Homo sapiens: one gene and its partners. The protein of the gene in region 1 interacts with the protein of each later gene in a biochemical or structural test. Each region holds a gene or a part of one and is shown on either strand. Other genes may lie near its edges.

Region 1 (7,032 bases):
TCTGCAAAGAGCCTGAGAGCAGGATGCAAAGTCATCAGCGAGGCTCACACCCCTTTCCTTCACACAAAAGACCCCACGGTGTCCTTGTACCTGGCCTTGGTGGTGCTGCTCAGTGTGGCCTGGGCCCCCCGCCATACGTAGATGTCTAGCCCTCGGTCCAGCAGGAAAACAAACCTGGACAAGAAGGGGCAGGAAGGAGCTGTGATGGTGCATGGGGCAATGGTCACCCCATGCTCCTGACCCCACCAAAAAAAATCCCTCACTATGGGGTTTCTGGGTAAGCCCCAGGGACCCCCCGCCAAGCTCGTGGGCAGGAATTGCTAGAGGGCCTCCTCTTCTAAGAGGCCCACACCTGCCCCCACTGGTGGGGAGGAGGCTGAGGATGAAGCACCCCCACCTCACATTGTTGGGGCTCACCTTGGGTCCAGAGAGGTCCCCTTGAGGGGCACAGGCTCCAACTTGATGTTCTTTTTCCCATACACACGATACATCCTGGGCGCAGGGCAAGAGTGGCTCAGTGTAGGCACCAAGGGCCTAACTTAGCCCCAACACCCTCCCCTCCACCCCTTGCCAGCAGACTCCAGGTCCATACCCCCCACTGCCCACACACCCTCACCTGGTGACATAGTGTGTGTCTTCCACAGTGTAGAAGCCACTGGCTGTTCCACCCTCAATGTAGGAGATGTCGTTGTCAAACACCTGTGTGTGTGAGGGTGTGGTTCTTCATCACTGAGCTGCCCCCTCCCCCACCAACCACTGCCCCTCAGGTGGGGGTACAGAGTTGCATACAGGTGAATTGAGTGCTACAAATCTATGATGCCTGTAATCCCAGCACTTCAGGAGTCTGAGGTGGGTGGATCACCTGAGGTCAGGAGTTGGAGACCAGCCTGACCAACATGGAGAAACCCTGTCTCTACTAAAAATACATAAATTAGCCAGGCGTGGTGGTGCATGCCTGTAATCCCAGCTACTCGGGAGGCTGAGGCAGGAGAATTGTTTGAACCTGGGAGGCGGAGGTTGCAGTGAGCTGAGATTGTGCCATTGTACTCCAGCCTGGGCAACAACAGCAAAACTCTGTCTTAAAACAAACAAACAAACAAACAAACAACAACAAAAAAAACAGATCTGGCTGGGCACGGTGGCTCATGCCTGTAATCTTAGTACTTTGGGAGGCCAAGGCGGGTGGATCACCTAAGGTCAGGAGTTCGAGACCAGCCTGGCCAACATGGCAAAACCCCATCACTACTAAAAAAATACAAAAATTAGCTAGGCGTGGTAGCACATGCCTGTAATCCCAGCTACTTGGGAGGCTGAGGCAGGAGAATCGCTTGAACCCTGGGGGCGGAGGTTGCAGTGAGCCAAGATTGTGCCACTGCACTCCAGCCTGGGCAACAAAGCGAGAGTCTGTCTAAAATAAAACATACACATCTGTGTCTATAAACATACACACGTCGGGGTGTTGGGATGTATGAAAAATATGGACACGTTCACCCACGTTTGTAAAGATGCCAGCAGCATGTTTAGATGCACGCATATCAGGGTACACAAGCAAGTGGGTTCATGGAAGAGTGGAAACCTGGGTGAATGTGGGTAAAAAAAACTCGGGGCGGGTGGGGTGTGTGCATAAACTCCACGTGTGTGTACATGCGAACATATGTCTAGGTGTAACCAGCTGGCGGCTAACACTGCTCAGTAATTTATTCAAGACTGGACTCTGGTCCCGCCCTTGGCCCCACCTCCTTGGCATCCAGGTGTGTCCTTGCCTCCTAATAACAGGTTTTGGCCCTGCCTTCTCACTGCTCTTGGCAACACCCCTTCCACCCTACTCTCAGCTCCCCTGTGTCAGCCCACTGGTCTAGCTCCCATGCCCAGCCTGTACCCTTATCCTTGCCCGGCTGAATTCTGCCCCGCGTTCCAGAACTCTCCTTTGCTGACCCAGGCTTTGGCCACCTTAGACCTCACCCTGCGGTCTGCCTTAGGTCCCGCACAGTATCGTTGATCCACCCCCTTTAACCCCAGCTCCCTGCCTGCCCACCTGTTCTGCCTACCTGCCTTGGGCCCACTGCCCCTGCACCAGAGTTCCCTGGGAACCCCACTCTGCCCACCCCCAATTTTAACGGGCTGGCACCTGCAGGAACTCCTCGCTCTCATCGCCCATCTCCTCCCGGACAGTGCGGCACTCAGCACCCAGGTAGTTGCGCAAGTTGACAGCGTGGATGGCAGAGCAAGCTTTCTTGTCGAGTGTGGCCTCCCCGCCAATCCAGTAGTAGATCTCCCAGTTGAGGGAGCCGCTGTCATCCAGAAAGGTCTGGAAGCCAAGGCACCGGCCACATCAGCTTTCATCCTGGTCTTCCGGCCACCCCGGAGACGCCACTCTGAACAGCACAGGCTTCCCAGCCCCAGGGGCTTTGTACTGCCCCTGTGCCTGGACCACCTCCTGCAGCCTGCCCACCTCCCACCTGGCCTCCCTGAACAAAACTCTGGAGTTGGGGACTGAGCCATCTTAGAGGAAGGTACTGGGCCACATGGCCCCTAACAGCATGCCCAGCCCTCACCTTGAGCACAATGTAGCAGTCAGCCTCGTAGAACTTGCCGTGGAAGGCTTCCTCCACCAGCACAGGCACGAAGTTCTCTATCTGCCAGATGGTCAGTCCGGGCAGCTGGCCCACGTCCTCCGTGAAGAACTCGGAGTAGTCAAGGCGGGGCTTCTCCAGGCCCTGGTCCCAACGCCGCACCTTCCCGCTGGGGGCCCGGGCATCTGCGCTCTCCTGGGGGCAGAGTCACAGAGCACGGCTTGACTCTGTGAAGCCACTCAGGCCAGTCTTTACTTGCTACCCACACCTCAGGGCCTTTGCACAGCTGTTCTTTCTGCCCAGCACCCCCCGTCCCTCTTGGCCAGGGTCAAGGCCAGGGTCGGCCTTCAGCAGAAGCTAAGGCTCCCTGCCTTGTCCCAACCCTGGCCTGGCTCACCTCCTGCTTTTTGTTCTTCTCCTGGGCAACATCTGACATGCCCTTCAGCACCTGCTTGGCCTGGTCATCCTGGGCTGAATCCTTGCGCCTCCGCAGTCGCATCTTGCGAGCCATAGGGTCCTTGGGCCCACTCCCTGCTTAGGGGAGGGGCAAACAGCTGAGCCCTCACTGGGCCTGCTGCCCCCTTGGGCATGCGACCAACCAGGGGCCAACTCCACCCACCAGGGTCCAGAAAGCTGTATGCCACCCAATTTACAGATGTGTCATTTGAGGCCTGGAGAGGAGCCCCCGTTCCCAGGCCAGACCTTTCCCCACTCACCAGCTGCAGCTGCAGCCACGGTAGCAGGAGAGGCACCCGCTAGCCGCAGCTGGTTCTGCAGCGAGAAGTCGATGTTGTACCACTCAGCGGCACGGTCTGCGGGCTTGGGCGGCATGACCAGGTTGGGGTTCTCCCGCACATCCAGGACCTGCCCCATAGGGTGAGCAGAGCCGGCACTGAGCCTGGGTCCTACCTCCCAGACACACCAATCCAGTTTCTTGCTCTTGTCTGCAGCCGCCAGGGCTGAGAGGTCAGGGAACTGGGTTCTCCTCCCACCCACCTCTGGGGCTGGCTGGGGGCTTAAATGAGACTGTGGAATGTACTCTGGATGCAGGGAGGTGGGGCCCACCTTCTCCCCACGGGCACCCTGGCACTGGCCACCTCCCTCAGGAGGCCTCTGCTGGGTCCCCCTTGCTCCAGGGCACACCCCTTGCTTGTCTCTCTTGAGCCCTCTCAAACCCAGCATGCCTGACCTCGATCTCCGTCAGGAAATGGATGGCTTCTGGGAGGGTCACCAGGTGGTTCTTGTTCAGGACAAGTTTCCTCAGCTTTGGGCACCTGTGAAGACAGGGCCAGCCAGGGCCTCAGGCAGGTGACAGACAAGGGGAAGTGGGCAAGAAAACCCCTAGTCCTGGGGAGGGGAGGCAGGTAGGGTCAGAGGAACTGGCGGGGGTCTCCATTCTCTGCCTGAAGGACTTCTCAGAGCCAAGAGACCATGTTACGGGCACTGTGATCTCCAGAAGGGGAGAGAAGCAACACTGCGTTCCCACGTCATGTGGCCTTGTCCCTAACAGTGCCCCCCGAAGGGTGCTCTCAGGGGCTCAAGTTGGGAATGGCTGGCATGGGACTGTGGTCTTCATCCACAAAGGTGAGTTAACTGGGCCGGGCGTGGTGGCTCACACCTGTAATCCCAGCACTTTGGGAGGCTGATCATTTGAGGACAGGCATTCAAGACCAGCCTGGCCAACATGGTGAGACCCCATCTCTACTAAAAATACAAAAAGAGCCGGGCGTGGTAGCGCACGCCTATAATCCCAGCTACTCAGGAGGCTGAGGCAGGAGATTCGCTTGAACCTGGGAGACAGAGGCTGCAGTCAGCCGAGATTGCACCACTACATTCCAGCCCAGGCGACAGAGCGAGACTCTGTCTCAAAAACAAAAAAGAAAAGAAAAGAAAAGAAAAGGTGAATTAACCCATCTTCATTTTGTCTGACTTGCACAGACCACAAGGTGGGCTCTGACTACGATCCCGGGGTTCTCTGTGCTGCAAGTGCCTCTGCTAGCCCCAGCCCTGCCCAGCACCTGCAGAGACTTTCAGGGACCAGCTCCAGGTTGTTGTTGGCAGCCATGAACTCTTCCAGGTTGGTGAGCTTGCCAATGCCTGAGGGCAGCCCGTCAAAGTCCAGCTTGTTGGAATTCAGGTACAGCTTCTTCAGCTTGCTCAGCTTGCAAATGGCTGACTGGAGGGGGAACGGGCAGGGGTGGGAGGTCAGGGCCAGGCTCACGGCCTTCCTCCCATCCCCCTACTGAGGGCCTCAGACGCACGGGCAGTGAGGTGAGCTGATTTCGGGACAGGTTCAGAGTTTCCACGTGCACCCACTGGTCTATGCACAGGGACAGCTCCGTGATCTGGTTGCTGCTGAGGTTGAGGCGGCGCAGGCTGGGGAGGGTGTACAGACACTCGGGCACCCGTGTCAGGTCATTGCAGGACAGATCCACGTCTGGGGTGCAGGGTGGGGTGCATCAGCTGGGGCCCATACACCAGGTGCCAGGGCAGCCAGCCCTAGTGTGAACCCCAGCTCTGCCACCTCTGAGCTGTGTGGCTTAGGCAAGTGACAACTGCTGTGCGCCCAAGTTTCTCCATTTGGACAAACTCCCTCACATGGGGGTTGCGGGGGAGTTTTCTAGGCATAAAGTCAGTGTTAAGGCATCATCATAATCGCAAAAGTCACTGTAACATAACTCCAGCCTTTTCCCTCTGGGTATTGGTCCGAAGAGCAGGGTTCAACCCCTTCCACCCAAGGAAGCAAGAGGGCCCAGAGGGGGCCCGAGCTCAGAGGGGCTCCTGGGGCTGCCTGACCTGCGAGGTTGCTCAGACCCTCCAGGCTGGTGGGCAGGTTGCTCTGGGTGCGCTGGGTGCTCCGCAGGTGCAGGGTCTGCAGGGCCGTCATCGCTGGGAGCTGCCTGCCAGGGTGACGTGAGTGGTCAGGGCCAGGGCCCACCTAGGGAGTGTTAAGGGTGGGGCTTGGCAGGGCAGGACCAAAAGCACAGGGCCCAGAGGGTAGGTGTGAGGTCACATCTGGTTGAAGGGACAAGCCCAAGGGTGGTTGCGGGGTGTGTAAGCGGGAAGACAGGACTGAGAGGTGGACATGATACTTAGGAGGTTGTACACTGAGGGGTGCTGCCTGCACGGAGGGATGGCTGGGCCTAAGGGAGAAGGGTTAGGGCCCTGGGAAGTGAAGGGGCCCGGCCAGACTCCTCAGGGTGGCTTCTGCAGGAGTGCGGTCCGAGGGGGCGCCCACCGGAGCTGTGCATGCAGCAGGGGGTTTCCATTGAGCACGAGCGTCTGCAGGTGCACCAGGCGGCGCATCTGCGGGGGCAGGCTCTCCAGGCGGTTCTCGCTGAGGTCCAGGTATAGTAGGTCAGTGAGGTTGATGAAGAGCTGGTTGGGGATGGTGTCGATGCTACGGGTGGGGAGCAGGAGCCACCTGAGTCAGCACCAGCCACCCCACAGGGCCCACCTGCCCCCTGCCCCCCACTGGCCTGGCACCTGTTGTGGCTGAGGTTCAGCACCAGCATGTTCTTGGCGTTCTCCAGCTCCCGCGGGCACTCTGTCAGCTGGTTGTGGCTCAAGTCCTGGGTAGAAGGGGCAAGACCCAGGTCAGGGGAGTCTCCTCCCCACCAGGCGTCTGCCAAGCTTGGGGATCAGGCAGGGCACTGAGTTGGGTGTGGGGGTAGATGAGGGGGCTTCAGGGCCAAAGGGAGACAGCCAGGGACTTGGGAGGAAGAGTGCCTGTGTTAGGGATCTGACTCCAAAAGTGACCTCAGGCAAGGTATTATCCACTCCAAGACTCAGTTTTCCCATCTGCAAAATGGGATAACAATGGCCCCAGGGACTTTTATAGTGAGTGGGGATTGAATGGTCCGGCTAGCACAGGGGCCAGGTGAGTGGGTAGCCACTGACCAGGACTGAGAGATCATCTAGCTTGAAGATGTCATCGGGGACTCCGGAATTCTTCAGACTGTTGGCTCGGGCCACGATGGCCTGGGAATAAACCATAAGAGTCTATAATTCCTGGCTTCCACTCTCAGGAAGGAACAGAGTCTAGAGAGGGACACCTCCTCAGGCAGCTCACCAGAGGCCAGGCCTGAGGACTCTCTCACCTCTGGCCTTTGATCAAATAGCTCCCTCTCCTGGAGCGCTCTTCCTAGCCTCCCAGTGAGCTCCTATTCATGCCTCAAAGCCCAGCTCAAATGTGCCCCGGAGCCCCAGCACAGGGCCCTCAGGGAACCTTTTCTGTTCAAACCATTTCTCTTCTTCTTAATTCCAGAAGGTGAGATAGGGGTAAGGTCTGAGTCAGGGTTTTCAGAACAGAGGGAGAGAAGTGGACCACAGAGAAATCAGAATCTGGATGGAGAGGAAGTCTGCTTTCTCTCCCTAACTTAAGACTGACACCTCCTCATACCTTACAGACATGCAGAAAGCTTGAGCATGAGGGAACAGGGCCAGAGAATGGTGTCGT
Region 2 (7,032 bases), on another chromosome or scaffold:
CTCTCTGGGGAGCTGGGGCTGTCCCTGAGAAGGCAGGCTGTGGGGCCCAGGCGGGACACCCAGGGCACACTCACCAGAAGTTGGCCTTGGTGAACTGCTCCATGTAGAGCTGTTCATCCGTGAAGGGTGCAAGGTGGACGTCACCAATGGTAGGAAACATGTTTCCTGGGAGTGGGGCAGGGAGGGGTGCTGGCGTCAGGTGACACATCCCACACTGCCTGGCAGAGCTTCCAAAGGACCCCAAGACCCCCAACCCTGGGTGCTCCCAGCCTGTCATCCATTCGTTCCTGCACTCCTGTGACAGTGGCACCGAGCGCCTATTCTGATCAGTGTTTCATCACCACCACGGGTACCTGACCTGCACCAGCTCACGAATTCCACCTGAGACTGGGAGGCTGGTGGCTCATCTTTATGTCCTATTACTAGACCTGGCAGGTGTGAGGGACCTGCCAAAGACTCACGGGGAAGCAGGCAGTGCCCGGGATGTGGCCAGGCGCTGCCTCTCAGGCCCTGCCGTCTGTGCATGTGTGCAGCCGGGAAAGCATAGCAAAGTTGCTCTGGACAGAGGGAGGGTGGTGGGCCCCGGGCTACCCCAACGCCGCTGGGGACCTCAGTTGAGGCCAAGAGCCAGGTGGGGGAAGCCAAATCCACACCACAGGGACTGCCTAGGTTCTGGCACAGGCACCCAGCCGGCAGGATGGGCCACTTGGCCTGCCTGGTCTGGGCACACAGACTGAGGGAAGGGCAGGGCCTCCCTCTGTGACTCAAGGGTAGACGCATGAGTCAGGGCCAGTGGCAGGGAGGATCAGGGCCCCGCAGCCCCGCCTGCCCCAAGGAGCACCTGGCCTCCAGATGTGGGCCCCCCAGCCTTGCAAGCTGGGGGAGGAGATCCTGAGGTATCAGTGGGACTCTGCCTCCTCCTTACGCCACCAGGCTGTACCCGAGGCGAGAGCTGCAGGGCTGCAGCTGCTGGAACGGGGAGGGAGATGCACATGCTGCGGCTTCTGCCCTGGGGGACCTGGGGGCACCATGGGAAGTGACCCAGCCTGGAAGGAACCTCTGGCTCCTGCTGACCAGAAGACATGTGACTGGGAGAGGGGAGGGCTGCCTTTAACCCCTGGAAGAGCTTCCTGAGCTGGACAGGAGTCCTCCTTGCACAGGCCTGGCCTCCCCCCTCCCTGCAAGCTGGCTGCTGGGACGTCGGGGGCACATGCAGCTGCCCACAGAGCCTGACTGCCATCTGGCTTCATGTCCCATCGGGAGGGGCCCTCTCTGCTGGGGCTGTCCCCACCCCCATCCCCACCATCAGGGCAGAAGGGGAGGAGAGTGGGGCCCACAGCCCCTGGAGCAGCCTTGCTTCCCATACTCACACCCAAGACATGAGACACAGCTGTGGGACGCCACCTCCCACCTCCAGGAGCACAGCCAGCCAGGACCCTAGGGCCTGGATCCAGGGCGGGCCAGAGATGAGAGTGGAAGCTTCCCCCCTGCCCCTGCCTGCACAAGCCCCACCAGCCTGCTGCTGCCCACGCTCCATCCCATGGCTGCTACCCTGGCTGGGGACCTGTACCCTGCCACACGCACACACAGCTGCTTGCCTGTACAGAAATGCTCAGACGCTCACATACCTAGCATGAGAAGAGCCACAGGCACATGCCTCAGGCGTCAGGGCTGCACAGACCCCAAGACAGATGGGCAAATAGAAACAGTCACCCAGGCCAGGCACAGTGGCTCATGCCTATAATCCCAACACTTTGGGAGGCTGAGGCGGGTAGATCACCTGAGGTCAGGAGTTCGTGACCAGCCTGACCAACACGGTGAAACCCCATCTCTACTAAAAATACAAAACTTAGCTGGGCGTGGTGGTGCACACCTGTAATCCCAGCTACTCAGGAGGCTGAAGCACAAAAATTGCTTGAACTGGGGAGGTGCAGGTTGCAGTGAGCCGAGATCGCACCACTGCACTCCAGCCTTGGCAACAAGAGTGAAACTCTGTCTCAAAAAAAGAAACAGTCACCCAGTGACCAGAGGCCATACCCAGAGGCACGGATGGGAAGTGACAGATGGGCTTGCCAGACAGCTACCTCACCTCCTCACACACGTACACTCGCACCCACACCCCTGCATTTGCACACATGCTCGCCCACCCCACCTCCTGGACTGTGAGGAGAGCAGGGCTTGTTGGGGAACTGCTGACCACAGAACCTGTCCCAATCCCCACTCCCAGCCAGAGGCTGTCCCGCAGGAGCAGGACATGGGACGGCAGAGGTGCCAGGAGATCCTGTGTACCCTGTCTGGGCGAGTGGGCAGCTGGGTGTCTGGCCGTGTTTGGGGCCCAGGGCTCCAAAAGCCACAGCTGGCTGGAGTGGGGTTGGGGTGGGAGCGGGGGAAAAGCCCAGGCTTCCCTACACCCCGGGCCACCGACAGTAAGCAGGGAGCTGAAGCACTGATGGCCTGGCTCAGCGGCAGCCAGGGCCTCCACCGAGGGGCCTGGCCTGTGTACCCCCCAGTGCTCACCGCTGGGCTTCAGGTACTTCTTGGCGTGGAGGTAGCTCTCCAGCATGCGCTCGTTGAAGAGCATGTAGCCCATGGGCTCCGAGATGATGATGTCCACCTGCTCGGGGAGTGACACCTCCTCCACCTTGCCCGGGATGACCACGATGCGGTCCGTCAGGTTGTTACTCTTCACCAAGACCTGCAGGCGGGCAGGGCCATGTGGGCTTCCCTGCGTCTTCCTGCCATGGGGCCCTCCCTAGACCTGCTCTCAAGGGACAGCCTCCATCCACACATGGGCATTGGGTGCCCCTCTGCCTGCTTCGCTGGCGCCCCAACCATGGCTGCGATTGGCCATAGCCTGTTAAGAGCTCACTGTGGGCCGGGCACGGTGCCTCATGCCTGTAATCCCAGCACTTTGGGAGGCCGAGGCAGGCGGACTGCTTGACCTCATAAGTTGGGAGACTAGCCTGACCAACATGGAGAAACCCTGTCTCTACTAAAAATACCAAAAAAAAAAAACTATTTTTTTTTTCTTTGAGACAGATTCTCACTCTGTTGCCCAGGCTGGAGGTGGTAGTGGCGCCATCTCGGCTCACTGCAACCTCTGCCTCCCGGGTTCTAGCGATTCTCCCACCTCAGCCTCCCGAGTAGCTGGGACTACAGGCACCCACCACCACGCCTGGCTAATGGGGTTTTGCCACGTTGGTCAGGCTGGTCTCGAACTCTTGACCTCAGGTGATCCGCCCACCTAAGCCTCCCAAAGTGCTGGGATTACAGGTGTGAGCCACCATGCCTGGCCTAAAAATACAAAAATTAGCCAGTTGCAGTGGTGGATCCCAGCTATTCAGGAGCCTGAGACAGGAGAATCACTTGAACCCGGGAGGTGGAGGTTGCAATGAGCCAGGATCGCACCACTGCACTCAAGCCTGAGCAACAGAGTGAGACCCCCCCCAAAAAAAAAGAGAGTTCACTGTGACCCCGGCCCTGCCTCAGGGCCGTCCCCTGCTGCGGCCTCCTAGGTCCCCCACCCTGCGTCGACAACTGCTGGTGGCTGCAAAGAGGGGGACGAGCAGACATCACAACAGCCACCAAAGCTAAAGCTGGATGCACCCCCAACCCAGCGATTCCAGGGCTAGGGTGTGTCCTACAGACACAACCGCATGTGGGAGAGGGGCTCAGGACAGCAGCGTTGGCCACGTGAAGACCTGGAAGGAGTCTGAGTGTCGCTGCGGACACAATGCAGCTAAAGCAACAGCGGCACGGCTGGGCACAGGGGTGCTCTGCGGCGGCAAGACAGAACAAAGATGGCCCCTCCACGACCCCGGCGACCCCAGATCCATGGGAGAGGCAGAGCAGGGAATGGAGGGTGCAGCCTCCACTGGTGCGAGAGGACGCTCACGGAATAGCTCTGCTCAGACTTTGTGGCCGTAGCTCCTCTCTCATGATGGGGCTGGGGGTGGGAGCTGGGGTGGGGAAGGAGAGCACGCTGTCTGCTCTTTTTTAGCTTTTATGTTTTGAACTTTGTGAATGAAGGTTTCAGTGCAAAAAAAAAAAAAAGAAAACAGGGAAATGACATGTGGCCCTGACTACCGGCCATGAGAGAAAATCATCTCAGGCCCTGAAGCCCCTCCCTGAAATGACTGTCTTGGGGACAATAAAGAGACCAAAGCACAGAAGTAATGTCCCCAGGCCCCTGGGGGTTCCCAAGCTTCTCTAGGCTGGGGCCGGCATGGCACTCATGGGCGAGGACGAGGCTGGGTGGGCACCAGCGGGCCACTGACCTCAGCGTGCTGGGCCATGGTGCTGGCCTCCACCGCGTAGATTTTCCGTGCTCCAGCTTGGGCGGCAAAAAACGACAGGATCCCAGAGCCACAGCCAACATCAAGAACGATCTGAGGGAGGAGTGGGAGGTGAGAGCGAGACATAGGAGGCGACGGTGATGGGGAGGTGACAGTGATCATAAGGGATGTGCACATCATGAGGCGTCTGTCTTCACTCTCAATGTTTGCCCTTTATGGGCTCTTGGTCAAAATGAAGCGAGAACTCAAGATGAGCCATGGGCCAGTCCTCCGGGAGGAGAAGCCCTGGGGAAGCTCCCGCTCGGCCCCAACCCTGTGGCCTGCAGGCCTCCGGATCGTCTGGGGTGAGTGGCACGGGCCTCCCCTGGAAGCTCACTGGCAGTTGAAAAGCATTTTTCCGGGGCCTCCGCAGTTCTAGCATGGAGGAAAGGGGCCCGAGTTGTTGGTGGCAGTGTCTCCCAGCTCCATGCTGACTCATGCCTGGAGAAGCAGCCCGTCTTGGCTGGGGCAGGTGAGCCGCCCAAGCCCTGGGGCCGGCTGGGCTCCCCGCAGGGCTACTGGCCCGTGGTGGTCACTCATGGCAGAGTCCAGGCCAGGGTCTGGGAGAACACACCACCTGTTCTGGATTTGTGGGATTGCTTCCACACGAGCAGACCAAGGACAGACATTCCTGGTGGTGACAGGCATGAGCTTTTGAAGGACAAATGCTCTGGGCATGGTGAGTGCCTGCAGGGGAAGCTGGGGTCAGGTGGGAAGGCCTCAGGGTACTGATCAGAGCTCCAGATGAACCAGGAAATGGATCTCCATCCTTGGGGAGCAGGAAGGGACTTCACCAACGGAGGACGTCCTTCCCAGACCTCAGTGGCCAGGAGGAGGCTCGGGATGGCCCTGCCAGGGCAGACACTCTTGTGTCAAGACAACTCCTCCCCAGGGCCCAAGGCCTACCATCCTCTGGGACGGTAAGCGATGCTAGGGGGGCGTGACCCAGGCGCTGGATGAGGCAGATCCATGCAGATCCACGTGGAGAGATCCCCAAAATACTTGGAGGAAAAAAACAGGCTCCCATTTGATTCAAAAGAGAAAACAGGCCAGGTGCGGCGGCTCACACCTGTAATCTCAGCACTTTGGGAGGCTGAGGCGGATGAACTGCTTGAGGCCAGAAGTTTGAGACCAGCCTGGGCAACATGGCAGAACCCCATCTCTACTAAAAATACAAAAATTAGCCGGGCATGGTGGCACATGACTGTAATCCCAGCTACTTGGCCGGCTGAGGCACAAAAATCGCTTGAACCCAGGAGGCAGAGGCTGCAGTGAGCTGAGATTGTGCCACTGCATTCCAGCCTGGGTGACAGAGTGAGAATCTGTCTCAAAAAACCCCCCAAAAACAGAAAGAGAAAACAAAAATTCTGAGTAAGCCGGGTGCAGTGGCTCATGCCTGTAATCCAAGCACTTTGGGAGGCTGAGGTGGGTGGATCATGAGGTCAAGAGATCTAGACCATCCTGGCCAACATGGTGAAACCCTGTCTCTACCAAAAATACAAAAATCTGCTGGGCTTGGTGGTGTGCGCCTGTAGTCCCAGCTACTCAGGAGGCTGAGGCAGGAGAATTGCTTGAACCCGGGAGGCGGAGGTTGCAGTGAGCCGAGATTGTGTCACTGCACTCCAGCCTGGTAACAAAGCAAGACTCCATCTCATAAAAAAAAAAGTAAAAATAAAAAAATAAAAAAGGTAGACACCAAAAACTCTGGCAAATGGGATGAGAAGGGAATACATTATACATTTCTACTTTTTTTTTTTAAGACGGAGTCTTGCTCTCTTGCCCAGGCTGGAGTGCAGTGGCACAATCTCGGCTCACTGCAACCTCCGCCTCCCAGGTTCAAGTGATTCTCCTGCCTCAGCCTCCTGAGTAGCTGGGACTACAGGTGCCTGCCACCACGCCCAGCTAATTTTTGTATTTTATTTTAGTAGAAATGGGCTTTTGCCATGTTGGCCAGGGTGGTCTCGAACTGCTAACCTCAAGTGATCCACCTGCCTCAGCCTCCCAAAGTGCTGGGATTACAGGTGTGAGCCACTGTGCCTGGCCGATTTCTACTTTTGAATACAGACGTTCTGCTCTGTTCTCTCTCTCTTTAATCATGAGTGCACATTATTTGGTGATATCAAAAAGCTTATTTATTTTGTTTTTGAGGCAGGGTCTCGCACTTTGGCTCAGCCTGGAGAGCAGTACCCCAATCACAGCTCACCGCAGTTTCAACTTCCTGGGCTCAAATGATCCCCCTGCCTTGGCCTCCCAAAGTGCTGGGATTACAGACAGGTGTGAGCTACTCTGCCCAGCTCAATAAAATAATTGTAAAATATACGCTGATGTCTGTATGGGGAAAAATCTTGAAGAAGAGACCTCATACTGAGGGGTAGCGGCTATCTTGGAGGGAACTGATAGAGGCCTCTCAAGCCTATAATGTACATGCTGTGTTGAGTTTATATATCAAATGCATTTGTTTTTCTTGCTTTTTGTTTTTTTTGTTTGTTTGTTTGTTTTTTGAGATGGAGTCTCACTCTGTTGCCCAGGCTGCAGTGCAGTGGCGCGATCTCAGCTCACTGCAAGCTCTGCCTCCTGCGTTCATGCCATTCACCTGCCTCAGCCTCCTGAGTAGCTGGGACTACAGGCGCCCACCACCACGCCCAACTAATTTTTTTGTATTTTTTAGTAGAGACGGGGTTTCATCGTGTTAGCCAGG
Region 3 (7,032 bases), on another chromosome or scaffold:
TCTTTAGGTCAGATGTAATTTTAAAAGATGTATAAAACATGTATTTCTAGACAAGTCCTTGGATCACTCCACATAGACACTGATCCACAGTATTATAGTAGAATATATTTCAGGTAAACTTAGCACTTCTCTGACTTGGGAATTGAGTCATTTTCTTATTAATGTTTCAAGCCACTGTTTCAATCATTTTGCCTTATCAGGTACCTACCAATGTAGAACAAGAGCAAGAAAATAACCTTTACCCAAAAGGCCCATGCCTGCCATTATGAGAGGAACTTTGGTTCATGAAAACACCAAGCACCGTCAAAAGCATTCCGTTTCCCATCTAATATTGAAATCTAAAGAAGCAATGCCGTTCTTTTCTTCCTCCAGAATGAGAGTCTACCAATTACCCAACCTTAGAGCCAAATCCCAAAATAACATTTTGTGAGGTTTCCAGAGACATCTGACAAAAGGGTTTTCTGGAGTGGGTAAATCTAGGCTTCTTGGCACCTACCTTCACAGCTGTTTACCTGGGACAGCCCTGGTTTCTCAGCTAGGGGCTACCATACCTCAGGGGAAGGGAGTATGTTCTCAGAGAAGGGGAGATATTTTCATGGCTCCCACAGACTTTGTTCTTTTTCTCTTGTCATGATTGTGTGATTACTTTTCCTTGAGACAGTTTGGCCTCATATGCAGAGAATCACTTTCTCTGGTGATATGGGATGTGACTCTGCTGCTTGCTCAGGTGCTGCCATTTTGAGCTCCGAGATCTGAACTTTCGTGCTCCACTGGCAATGGCATTTTTCTTTCACAAGCTTCACTCTGCCTACCAATGCCAACATCAGCCAATTAATATTTACTGACATTCCACAGGGAGCACGGCTCTGGGCACCTTTCATTGTTTTGCTGCCACCCACCCTCTCTCTCTGTCTTTTCTCTACTGGCTCAAAGCTCATGTCGGAAACCTTTGCCTTCACTTTAGTATAGACTTCAACATTTTTCATCATAGCTGGCCTACGTGTCATTTTATTTTCTACTTATCTTCACTTTCTCTCTCTTCCCAAATACACATATGGCCTAAAATAGAATTAACTCTCCCTGTCCCTTTCCCACTAACAAACTATAAGCAGCCCCGTTGACCTTCATCCCAATGGGGTGTCTAAGTGAGACATCTGTGGCTGGCAGGGAACTGCTCCCTGCTGTGCATTCTACTTTCTTTCTCTCTCCCTCTCTTCTTCCTGATTTCTCCTCCCAACCTCAGTATCTTTTCTCCTTTTCTGCTGTCTGGGCATGTATGGGTATTGCTCTCTCCACTGGCACTGAGCAAGATTAAAAGGCTGGGTTGTGATCACACTCACTCTCATTTTTTCAGTCATTGTTCCTTACACTTACCCCAATCATGGAATCATTATGCTTGAAAGGGAAGGTCAGACATTCGTCTAGGACTTGTTTCCAGAGAGAACTGAAACTCAACCATCTCAGACAACCAGTAATCTTATTCTCAATTCTCTCTGACAAGAACAATCTCACAGTTTGTCTGATAAACTTTTAATGGATTACTCAGGTGACGTCTAAATCCCTTTAAACTCTGACACTCATCCTGTGTTTAAAAGTTCTTCTATTTAGAAACTCATTTCCTAAGTGTAATCTTAATTAAAGAAACACATTTAAATGTTTTGTCTTAATGGAAGAGGAAAAATATTTCCCATCTTTTCTCATCTGCAGAATCTTTTAATCCAAGGAATTCTGAATCCATCACAGAGTTCAGTATCAGTGTTCCAAACCTGATGGCTCCTTTGCTGGTGGCCTTGGATTTTCTGTTCTGGTCACTTTGCTCTTTCCCATCTGTCTGTGTCTAGCCTTGTGGTTCCTTCAGCAGTCTTCTCTAATGATTCCTCATCCACTCTGTGATATGATTCAGAACTGATCATCATCTGGGTTGAGAATGCTCTCTCTCTCTGTGCTGGACCTCATTTCTCCTGTCTCCCCATCCTCATCCATTCTGCTAACCCTCGCTGGCCTTCTCTGTCAGATCCTGCCATCTGGAACAACTTAACTGTATCCTCCACCTCGTTAACTTTCCACCCCTTTCCAAATCTCACCTGCAACCATGTCCTTTCTGCTTTGCCTCCACCCCTTCATTTCATGCCATCAAAGCTAGTGCATTTAACGTATTTATCTTTCTAGCCTATCAACTTTTTAAAATAATATGCACTTAATAGATATTTCACAAAGTAAGTCTGTCTTGTTTTATTGGAGTTTCATCTATTGCTAGGGCATGGGGCATATTTCTCTTGCAAATAGAGAGACCCCACTTGAACAGGAGAATGCTGCAGCTGGGTCCCAGGCAGGTCTTGTTCTCGCGCAAGTGCTGCTCGTGGTCCAGATTGTGATGGATTTCTTGCTGTGCTTCTAGCCCATGCTTTGAGGGAGTTTACATTGAACAGTGGCTTGGACCGCTTTACTCTCCACTGGACTGAAGCTTTTCGTTTATATAACTAGTTAGAATTATCATAATGGCGCATTTATTTCTCCCCTGTCTTCCAAATGGGAATTGGATGCTAGAAATACTTTACCTCGTTCCAGGAGGTACCCATCCTCCAGAGGAAATTTTGGCTATGCCTTGTATGACCCCATATAAACAAGAAGGAGTCTACACCCTTCTTATATGATTGTAGCAGGTTAGGAAGAAATATCTGGTTCATTACTGGGAAAAGGAGGGCCAATGTAGGATAGGCATTCTAATCGATTAACTTATATACTTTTGGGAAATGTTTAGGAGGAAGAATGGAAATAAGGATAGCTAACATTTATTGAGCACTTACTTTCTGCCAGGTACTATTCTAAACATTTTACATGTACTAACTCATTTAAATCTTGCAATATTATCGTCATTATCCCCACCATACAGATGAAAAAGAAGAGGTTCAGAGAAGTTAAGAATCATTCCTAAGATCACAAGTGGAGGACAGGAGGAACCCCAGTGTTTCATTTTTGCCATTTTTTTTCTCTTCTAGAAACGGATAGAAACCATAGACCTGCCTATCTAGAATAATAAAGAGAAATTAATCAAGACAACACCACACTAATCTCTCAGCATTCCTTATGGTAGGGGAAATAGAATAGACTTAGAAATTAGAAGATATGTCAACCTTTCCTAGCTTTCCTATTTTTACTTGTGTGGCAAAAACAAACAAACAAAAAAACTGAATTTCCCCCACTAAATTTCAGTTTCTTAATCTGTAAATTAAAAATTACTTGTGAAAACTGTTTTATACTCATGTTAGCTATAACAAAATGATTTAATTTTCTACTACAGTTGATTTATTTGAAATTCTTATATTAGTAAATTCACTTTATTCTGGCGGAAAATATATAATTTGATAACTTCCCACTATTTGAGAGGAGGCAAAATACATAGTTTCTAGGGATAGGCAAGCCGTCAGTGTTTGAAACTCATCTTTTTCTCTCTTTTAGTTTCTTACCACTTTTTTGCCCATATACATGAGAATTATGTTAAATTTAAAATTAGTAACTGCTGCTTTATTAAATATACAGAAGAAAATCTTATTTGCAGATTTTTAAAATAATTATTTGTTTCAGTATCGCATATATCCAAAAAAAAAATGCACCCAGATATTTATTACATGTAGCTCCTTAAAGGATGTTACTGCACCCTTCAAACCAAGGAAACTTTGACCTTGCCATTACAAAAAGCAATAAAAGCAGTGGTCTTGGATGTCTCAGTCAATGATGACCACCTAAATTCAGGCAAAGCTCGGGGTATTAGAAAGTGAGAAAGAGCTTCTTACTAATAATTCCAACTACATTATTAAATAGCTGAATATATGAAGAATACAATAAGTTACATTTGTACTAAGGAAATTTCTATTCATTTTCAAAACAGATGAATTAGGAGAAAAGGTAAAACTAAATATCACTAAAGATATGTTGTCATCATAATAATGGAAACCAATGGAGGAAAACAAATTGATTTACAAATTATTATGCTTTTTAATAAGTTGAAATTATATGTATAATACATGTTTTGTCTTACATCTTCTTCCTAATATTCTGCCCATTTGTGCACATTAGCACACACTTGTCATAGGAAACTGTTACTGTCTCTGTAGTATTTCCTTATGTGGATAATATATCTTTAGTTTGTTTCCCAGTTTTCAGTCTAATACATGATACTGAATTGTCTTTAAAGAATTTATTTTGTGCTTTAAATTGTTGCCTTCATGTATCTTCACTTTCAAGTCTTCTGATACATATTGTCTGAGAAATGTGTTTAGGATACACGTCCCACACATTTTCCCCAAGGCTTTCTTAAGCTAATAGAGGTGGCAGAGAGAAAAACAGTGGGAGAAATAGCGTTTGGATACCGTAATATCTAAAAACCAAAGCAAAGATGAGAGAAGGAGAGGCGAGAAGCAGCCCTTCTGTTTTGTAAGTGGGTCATTGCTGACCTTTGAGAGAACAGTTTTCACAGGGTATTGATGTCCAAACCAGATTATAAGGATTCTCTGCATTAAAGGCAACAAGGGCAGACCACTCTTTTAAGAAGTCTGAAGGTGAAAGTTAGGCTGTAGATGGGCAGCAGCCTGTGGGGGTGGAGGGCGGGGTCATGGGGGATAAGGAAGGCTATTATAGGATGGGAGAAATCTGAGCATTTTTTAAAAGGATAGAACCAGTAGGGAGGTAAAATTTCAAGATGCAAACTAGAAGAGGGATGAACTCTAGAACCAGGCAAGACAGTGTGAGTGTGAGACCACGAGACAGATGGCAGCCAGCTAGAGTGAGCAAGAGGGACACTCTTGTCACAGAGACAGGAAAGCATAGGAAGAAAGACTTTGAGGTGGACATTAAGGAAATTAATCAAACTTGACTTTCTTAGTAAATCAGAAGATGAGTCTAAAATCTCCTATTTTTATGAGCACCCAATTCAGGGGTTTCTAAATTTTTCTCTCCATTGGAATTACCTTGTAACCTTAAGAAAATAATGTTGCCTGGATCCAACCCCAGAGATTGTGATTTAATTGCCTGGAAGTGTGGCCTGTTCTTTGGCATTTTAACACATTCCCCAGGTGACTTTACTGTGTTAGCTGAGTTTGGGAGCCATGGACCTAACGTACTGGCAGCTTCATAGAGATGCTACTAGATATGTTTCAGCCAGAGACAAGCCCAGGAATTTTACTCAGCTGCTAGAAGGGAGAAGCTGAGCAGATATAAGGGCTATGAAACTGCTATAGCCTTCCTGTGACTTTGAGGGCAGAGCCTGTCTGAAAATGGCAGTGGATCCAAAAGAAAGAGACACCATATCTGACTGTCATCACTTCAGCCCCTGCTCAAGAACTACCTTAAGGGAGCTCTGAGCTCTCCCTTAGACTTCTTCAGTTAAGTTAGCCATTAAATGTCTTTAACACCTAAGCCCATTAGAGCCAGGTCTTTCTGTTATTTGCAATCAAAAGAGGCCTGATACAGGTTATAACGCATTTGTGTGTATACATTTTGGTGAGAGTTTTGAAGACATAGTTTAAAAATGACAGTTGACTCAACCATTTGCTGAGTCCACTCCTGAGTTGCTCTCATTCCACAGAACTGTGTGAACACCCCTGCAAATCTGAGCCTGCAGTCCTGTATGAAGTTATGAGCGCCACTGCTAACGTAGGATTTCCAGTGGATCATTTTGTTAAGTCTTCAAGTCTGCCCTCCTTGGCAGTCCACATCAGCATAGACTGGAAGGAATGTTCCATGGGGATGGAAATGAATATTGTAATTTTCATGTGATTTTTTGTCCTTACTATTTAGGGACCTAAGGGCTAACTGATCTCTCCCTTTCTTCTCCCCTTATGCGGAAGGTTATTATATGGAGAAAATAGTTGAAAGGCAGGGTTATAAAGTTTTCTGCTTTGGTTGTATGCGGTGCAATGTTCTGAGCATCTCAGCTCTTCTCATTGCTCCCTCTTCTCTTCTGTTACTTGTCTTCTTTCAATGCTAATGGACATAGCTACTCATGCAAAGGAGTTCACCCTCATTTGTATGGTGCAGAAAGTCTGTTGCCCTAGCCCACAATGAAGAGTAGACTTCATTGGTTAAAGTCATCTTCTATGGAGCCAATTGTTAAATGTTAAAGAATTTTTTGAACTAGCTTGTAAACACAATCATTTAAAATTATATAAATTTGCAATTAAATGATATTAAAAACGGAGGTAATGAATACTAACAATTCATCATTTTCTAATCATTACTACATTTTATGTTCTGTGCTCTTGAAGTCTACTCTATCTATGTGGGAGAGCTACTCTATAATGGTGTGCCACACATCTCTTAGCAACTCCACATTCAATGACATCAAGTTGGTAGACTGAAATTGGCCATAGTGGGAGTATTTACACCAGAGACATTGATGGATGCTATAAATCAAGGCATGCCCCGACAAAGCCACTTGTTAAACATTTACCAGCACACCACTGAATAGGTACTCCTGCTCTGTGTATTCATAAACCTGTATAGATGGCTTTCATTATGCTTTCTACATTTGATGATAATTCTTTGTTTATCTGTATACAACCATCAGACTATGAATTCCTTGAAAATTAGTATCCATGCTTTACTTACCATTATGTCACTGGCAAGTACAAAGTATTTGGTACAAAGAAAATGCCCAATAAGTATCTGTCGAATGGATAATGTTAATATTTATTTATTTATTTATTTATTTATTGAGACAGAGTCTCACTCTGTCACCCAGGCTGCAGTGCAGTGGCACGATCTCAGCTCACTGCAGCCTCCGCCTCCTGGGTTCAAGTGATTCTCTTGCCTCAGCCTCCCGAGTAGCTGGGATTACAGGCACCCATCACCACACCTGGCTAATTTGTTGTATTTTGGCCCGGCTGGTCTCAAACTCCTGACCCCAAGTGATCTGCCCACCTTGGCCTCCCAAAGTGCTGGGATTACAGGTGTGAGCCACCATGCCTGGCCAAATGATGTCAATTTTTAAAGATCTCCGGGCTTAACCAATCCCACACATTTGTTTTGGGCTTG
Region 4 (4,496 bases), on another chromosome or scaffold:
GCCAAATCATGTAATTGCACTATACATGGAGTTTTGTGTGCTTTTTAAATTAAATTAAATTTAAACTTTTTTTTTTTTTTTTCCTGAGACGGAGTCTTGCTCTGTCGCCCAGGCTGGAGTGCAGTGGCGCGATCTCGGCTCACCGCAAGCTCTGCCTCCCGAGTTCAAGCAATTCTCCTGCCTCAGCCTCCCGAGTAGCTGGGACTACAGACACAAGCCACCACACCCAGCTAATTTTTGTATTTTTAGTAGGATGGGGTTTCACCATGTTAGCCCGGGTGGTCTTGATCTCTTGACCGCTTGATCCACCCGCCTTGGCCTCCCAAAGTGCTGGGATTACAGGCGTGAGCCACTGTGCCTGGCCGAGAGTAGGGCTCTCTTGAGGGGTGGCCTTGAGTCAGGAGTGGGCTCCAGGTCCCTGGAGCTGAGTTATCTCTGATGCTTCAGGAGCTGTTGTCCTGGGTTACCACTGTGGCCCCAAGTAACCAGGTCATCTCTGCCTTCAGCCCAGCCCCTGTGGAGGTGAATCTGAAGCTCCGCCGGCCATCCTTCCGTGATGATATTGATCTCAATGCTACCTTTGATGTGGATACTCCCCCAGCCCGGCCCTCCAGCTCCCAGCATGGTTACTACGAAAAACTTTGCCTAGAGAAGTCACAGTGAGTGATAGTCGCTGGCACTGTCCATGGGCTGGTAGGGGGATAGCTAAGACAGCTCTGCAGGCCCTGTGCTGTTAGCTCTGAGTGGCTGATGGGGCAGTGAGGGTTGCCTAGGCTTGGCCATGGCTTTGGTTCCAGCTACCTCTTGTTCCCTCACCTGAGCACTCAATCTGTGCAAACCCCTTCTCTTTTCTCATTATTCCTCACCATCACCTTTCAAGGCAAACGTATTGGAATGCAAGTTAGAGAGAATGCAGTGATGCCAGAAGGGGTGGGTCTGGGCTGGAGAGGGTGCTCCCAATACCTTGAAGGCCTGCCCACCAGAGTCCTGAGCGAGGGACTCTGAACTTCCTCTTCTATGTTTGCCTCTGAGGCTCATGCCTGAGGGAGGATCATCTCAAACCACAGAGCCCAAGGCCTTACCACCCAAGGGGGTGACCCACAGGGGCAAGCATGAGAAGCTGTCTGGAATTCCAGTGGGGCAGGTGGAACCTGCTCTGGGGTACGGTGGGACCAGAAAAAGGGAGGCTGTCTCCTTGGCCAGCTTTGCCAAGTGTAATTCACTGTGGAGACAAGGACTATACTCATTCATACAGGTACTGTTCAGGTGAGGCTGGTCAAGGGCTGGGCAGGTTTCCTCTTTTTCAAAGACTTTGTACAGAGAGAAAGAAGAGAAAGAGAAAGAAACTGAGATGCTAGACAGTGGAGGTGGAAGGGAGCAAGAGGGCAAGCCAGCTGGGCTGTCCTACCTCCCAAACCTCAGGGGGCATGGGCACCCCTGTTGTAGAGGGCGAGGCCTGGTAGCAATGAGAAACAAACCTAGGACCCGTGGGCTGTAGTCCTCAGGGATCCTGTCAGTGTCTGCTGTGTACTCTGGCTTCCTCCCATTGCCCTTCTTCCGCTGTAAAGGTTGAAGGTGGACACCTGGGGTCTTCAGGCTGCCAGGCCTTTCAGAGACATTTCCACCACCTTCATGGCCTGTGGAGGTAGTGAAGGAGGTAGTGAAGTTCTGAGTCCCTAACTCAGCTCGTCCTTCCTGGAGCCTTGGTTGTCATGTAGCCTTACCACAGGCCGTTAGGGCAGGAGCAGAGGAGTCAGTCATCAGGCCCTGATCCCACTCTTGTCCTTATGGCTTGAGAAGCCACAGGGCCAGCCTTAGATCACCATCTTCTCACCCACCAGGGAAAATGCCAGGAGAGGGTATCCAGCTGCTGGGTTCCCCAGGAATTGGATGGAAATACAGTTTCTGGCTCTGGGGCTGGGATTGGGAGACCAGGGCCTGGGGCCATGCGCTATTCTGCCCCAGGCCCTTCTTAGACACACTCTCTAGGGAGATGGCTTGGCCCTGTGTTCTGAGAGGATTTTGTGGGCTACTTTACTGAAAGGCTAACTTACTGAGGCTCTCGTGGAGGTAGTGTCCCCTCTCTGGGAAGACAGGACTAGGCCTGAGCTCATTAAATTTCTTTTGCTCGTATCAGGGCATGACTGGCTTTCCTCCCGTGGGTGGTGAGTTGATTGGGCTCTTCAGCCCCATATAGAGCCTGGGACATGGTGAGGTGCCCGAGGACTTGAGGAGCGTTGGAATTTGGCCTTGAGTGGAAGCCACAGGATTGGGACATGGTCCAGTCATCCCCAGTCATCCCTGTCTCTGCCACCCTACTGGCTGTGGCTGTCCAGCTGTTAACAGACCTGCACTTGGGGTGGGATCACTGAGGTGCCTTGCCCAGAATGCAGGCATGGCAGCAGCAGTGCCACATGGTAACTCCCCAAGGGGCGTGTGCTGAGCCTGGTTCACCTGCCCCCATGTCTTGCTTACCTACCCCTTGCCTTCTCTCTCATTCTTGTAGCTCCCCAATTCAGGATGTCCCCAAGAAGATATGCAAAGGCCCCAGGAAGGTAAGAGCTTTCTAGAAGAAGCACAGTCTAACCTTTGGCAGGACTGGACTTTTGGGAGGGCACGGTCTTGCCAGAGCCTTGTCACTCCTGGTCCAGGACTGAGGTACTTCGGAGCCACCCTTGGGATTCTACTCATTATCCCTCCTGCCTCCTAGTGAGGCATCAGAGATCCTGATCTTGTTCCACCACCACTACCCTCCCTCCTTTGCTGACATCCAGCTCATCAAGTCTGGCCCTGGGGTCTTCCCTGCAGGAGTCCCAGCTCTCACTGGGTGGCCAGAGCTGTGCAGGAGAGCCAGATGAGGAACTGGTTGGTGCCTTCCCTATTTTTGTCCGGAATGCCATCCTAGGCCAGAAACAGCCCAAGAGGCCCAGGTCAGAGTCCTCTTGCAGCAAAGATGTGGTGAGTGTGGCTTCCCACAGTGGCAGGAGCCAGCCCTCTTGGGTAGAAATGGGTGGCCAGCCCCCCAGCCCATTAGCCTGGCCCACTCATCTCTTCCTTCCACCCTAGGTAAGGACAGGCTTCGATGGGCTCGGTGGCCGGACAAAATTCATCCAGCCTGTATCCTTTTCCTGTGATGTTGAGCTGAGCTGAACTGTGGAGCCCATACTATGCCTCACCTATACCCCCAGCCTGCCAGTGCCAACAGCCTCAGGTGTGCAGTGCTGGGCCTCATTCTGTGTATCAGCGCCGCCCACCCCCGGCTCTGAGCCTTTCTTGCCCTGCATTGCAGTCCTTTCTCGCCCTGCATTGCAGTCCTTTCTCCATGCCTCTTCCTTGACAGCTCCTCCAGACTGACACAGTCATGATCCGCCCATTGCCTGTTAAGCCCAAGACCAAGGTTAAGCAGAGGGTGAGGGTGAAGACAGTGCCTTCTCTCTTCCAGGCCAAGCTGGACACCTTCCTGTGGTCGTGAGAACAGTGAGTCTGACCAATGGCCAGACACATGCCTGCAACTTGTAGGTCAAGGACTGTCCAGGCAGGGGTTTTGTGGACAGAGCCCCACTTTCGGGACCAGCCTGAGGTGTAAGGGCAGACAAACAGGTGAGGGTGAGTGTGGCACCCAGAGACTGCTCTTCCTGCCCTCACCCTGCCCCACTCCTACGACTGGGAGCTGACATGACCAGCCCACTGATCCTGTCAGCAGGTCCTGCTCCTGTTGCCAGGCTCCTGTTTATAGCCATGATCAGATGTGGTCAGACTCTTTCTGGGCCTGGAGACCACGGTCACTTGTTGACTGTCTCTGTGGACCAGAGTGCTTGAGGCATCTCAGGCAGCCTCAGCCCAAGCTTCTACCTGCCTTTGACTTGCTTCTAGGCATAGCCTGGGCCAAGCAGGGTGGGGAATGGAGGATAGCATGGGATGTATGGAGAGGATGGAAGATTTTCATGTAAAATAAAATTAAAAAAAAAAAACAATCTCTTCTTCCTGGTTCTGAGAGTGTAAATTTGCACCAACACTTTAGAAAACTGTTTGGCATGACTTTCTAAAGCAGGAACATCGCCAAGCCTCAGATCCAGCAGTTCCTTCCCTAGGCATATGCCTTCTCATGGGGCACAGGAAGACTCTAGAAAGAATGAGATCACTGCAGCTTTTCTCACAGTCTCTAACCTGGGCACAGCCTAAAGGCCATAAGTAGGAAAGTGAACGAGTAAATGGAAATCTATCTATACAGTGTACTCACAGCAAATAACCAGCGACCACTACCTTCCGTTCCTACCCACGTTTAAACGCTACCAGCCAAATTGCTAGCTTTTGACTTTTGGCTGCAAAGGCACTTTCTTTCTTTTCTTTCTTTTTCTTTCTTTCTTTTTTTTTTTTTTCTTTTTGCAACAGGGTCTCCCTCTGTCTCCCAGGCTGGAGTGCAGTGGCACAATCACAGTTCACTGCAGCCTCAACCTCCCAGGCTCAGGTGATCCTCCCACCTCAGCCTCCTGAGT

Evidence for each region.
Region 2: the proteins of FLII (region 1) and CARM1 form a complex in vitro, tested with the Homo sapiens proteins (one study listed by BioGRID).
Region 3: the proteins of FLII (region 1) and GRIP1 form a complex in vitro, tested with the Homo sapiens proteins (one study listed by BioGRID).
Region 4: the proteins of FLII (region 1) and TRAIP form a complex in vitro, tested with the Homo sapiens proteins (one study listed by BioGRID).

Annotation. Positions count from the first base shown.
Region 1 is NC_000017.11:18,248,710-18,255,741, forward strand, and holds part of FLII (protein flightless-1 homolog), read right to left. Parts: intron 6,555-7,032; coding exon 6,474-6,554; intron 6,146-6,473; coding exon 6,060-6,145; intron 5,974-6,059; coding exon 5,812-5,973; intron 5,474-5,811; coding exon 5,370-5,473; intron 5,011-5,369; coding exon 4,835-5,010; intron 4,750-4,834; coding exon 4,592-4,749; intron 3,848-4,591; coding exon 3,763-3,847; intron 3,438-3,762; coding exon 3,290-3,437; intron 3,108-3,289; coding exon 2,971-3,107; intron 2,769-2,970; coding exon 2,556-2,768; intron 2,309-2,555; coding exon 2,129-2,308; intron 700-2,128; coding exon 617-699; intron 493-616; coding exon 418-492; intron 175-417; coding exon 91-174; intron 13-90; coding exon 1-12. UniProt on the Homo sapiens protein: Is a regulator of actin polymerization, required for proper myofibril organization and regulation of the length of sarcomeric thin filaments. It also plays a role in the assembly of cardiomyocyte cell adhesion complexes.
Region 2 is NC_000019.10:10,909,540-10,916,571, reverse strand, and holds part of CARM1 (histone-arginine methyltransferase CARM1), read right to left. Parts: intron 4,389-7,032; coding exon 4,278-4,388; intron 2,696-4,277; coding exon 2,518-2,695; intron 166-2,517; coding exon 75-165; intron 1-74. UniProt on the Homo sapiens protein: Methylates (mono- and asymmetric dimethylation) the guanidino nitrogens of arginyl residues in several proteins involved in DNA packaging, transcription regulation, pre-mRNA splicing, and mRNA stability.
Region 3 is NC_000012.12:66,669,068-66,676,099, reverse strand, and holds part of GRIP1 (glutamate receptor-interacting protein 1), read left to right. Parts: intron 1-7,032. UniProt on the Homo sapiens protein: May play a role as a localized scaffold for the assembly of a multiprotein signaling complex and as mediator of the trafficking of its binding partners at specific subcellular location in neurons.
Region 4 is NC_000003.12:49,828,079-49,832,574, reverse strand, and holds the end of TRAIP (E3 ubiquitin-protein ligase TRAIP), read left to right. Parts: intron 1-506; coding exon 507-659; intron 660-2,506; coding exon 2,507-2,555; intron 2,556-2,808; coding exon 2,809-2,958; intron 2,959-3,066; coding exon 3,067-3,117; intron 3,118-3,349; coding exon 3,350-3,472; 3' UTR 3,473-3,974; downstream 3,975-4,496. UniProt on the Homo sapiens protein: E3 ubiquitin ligase required to protect genome stability in response to replication stress.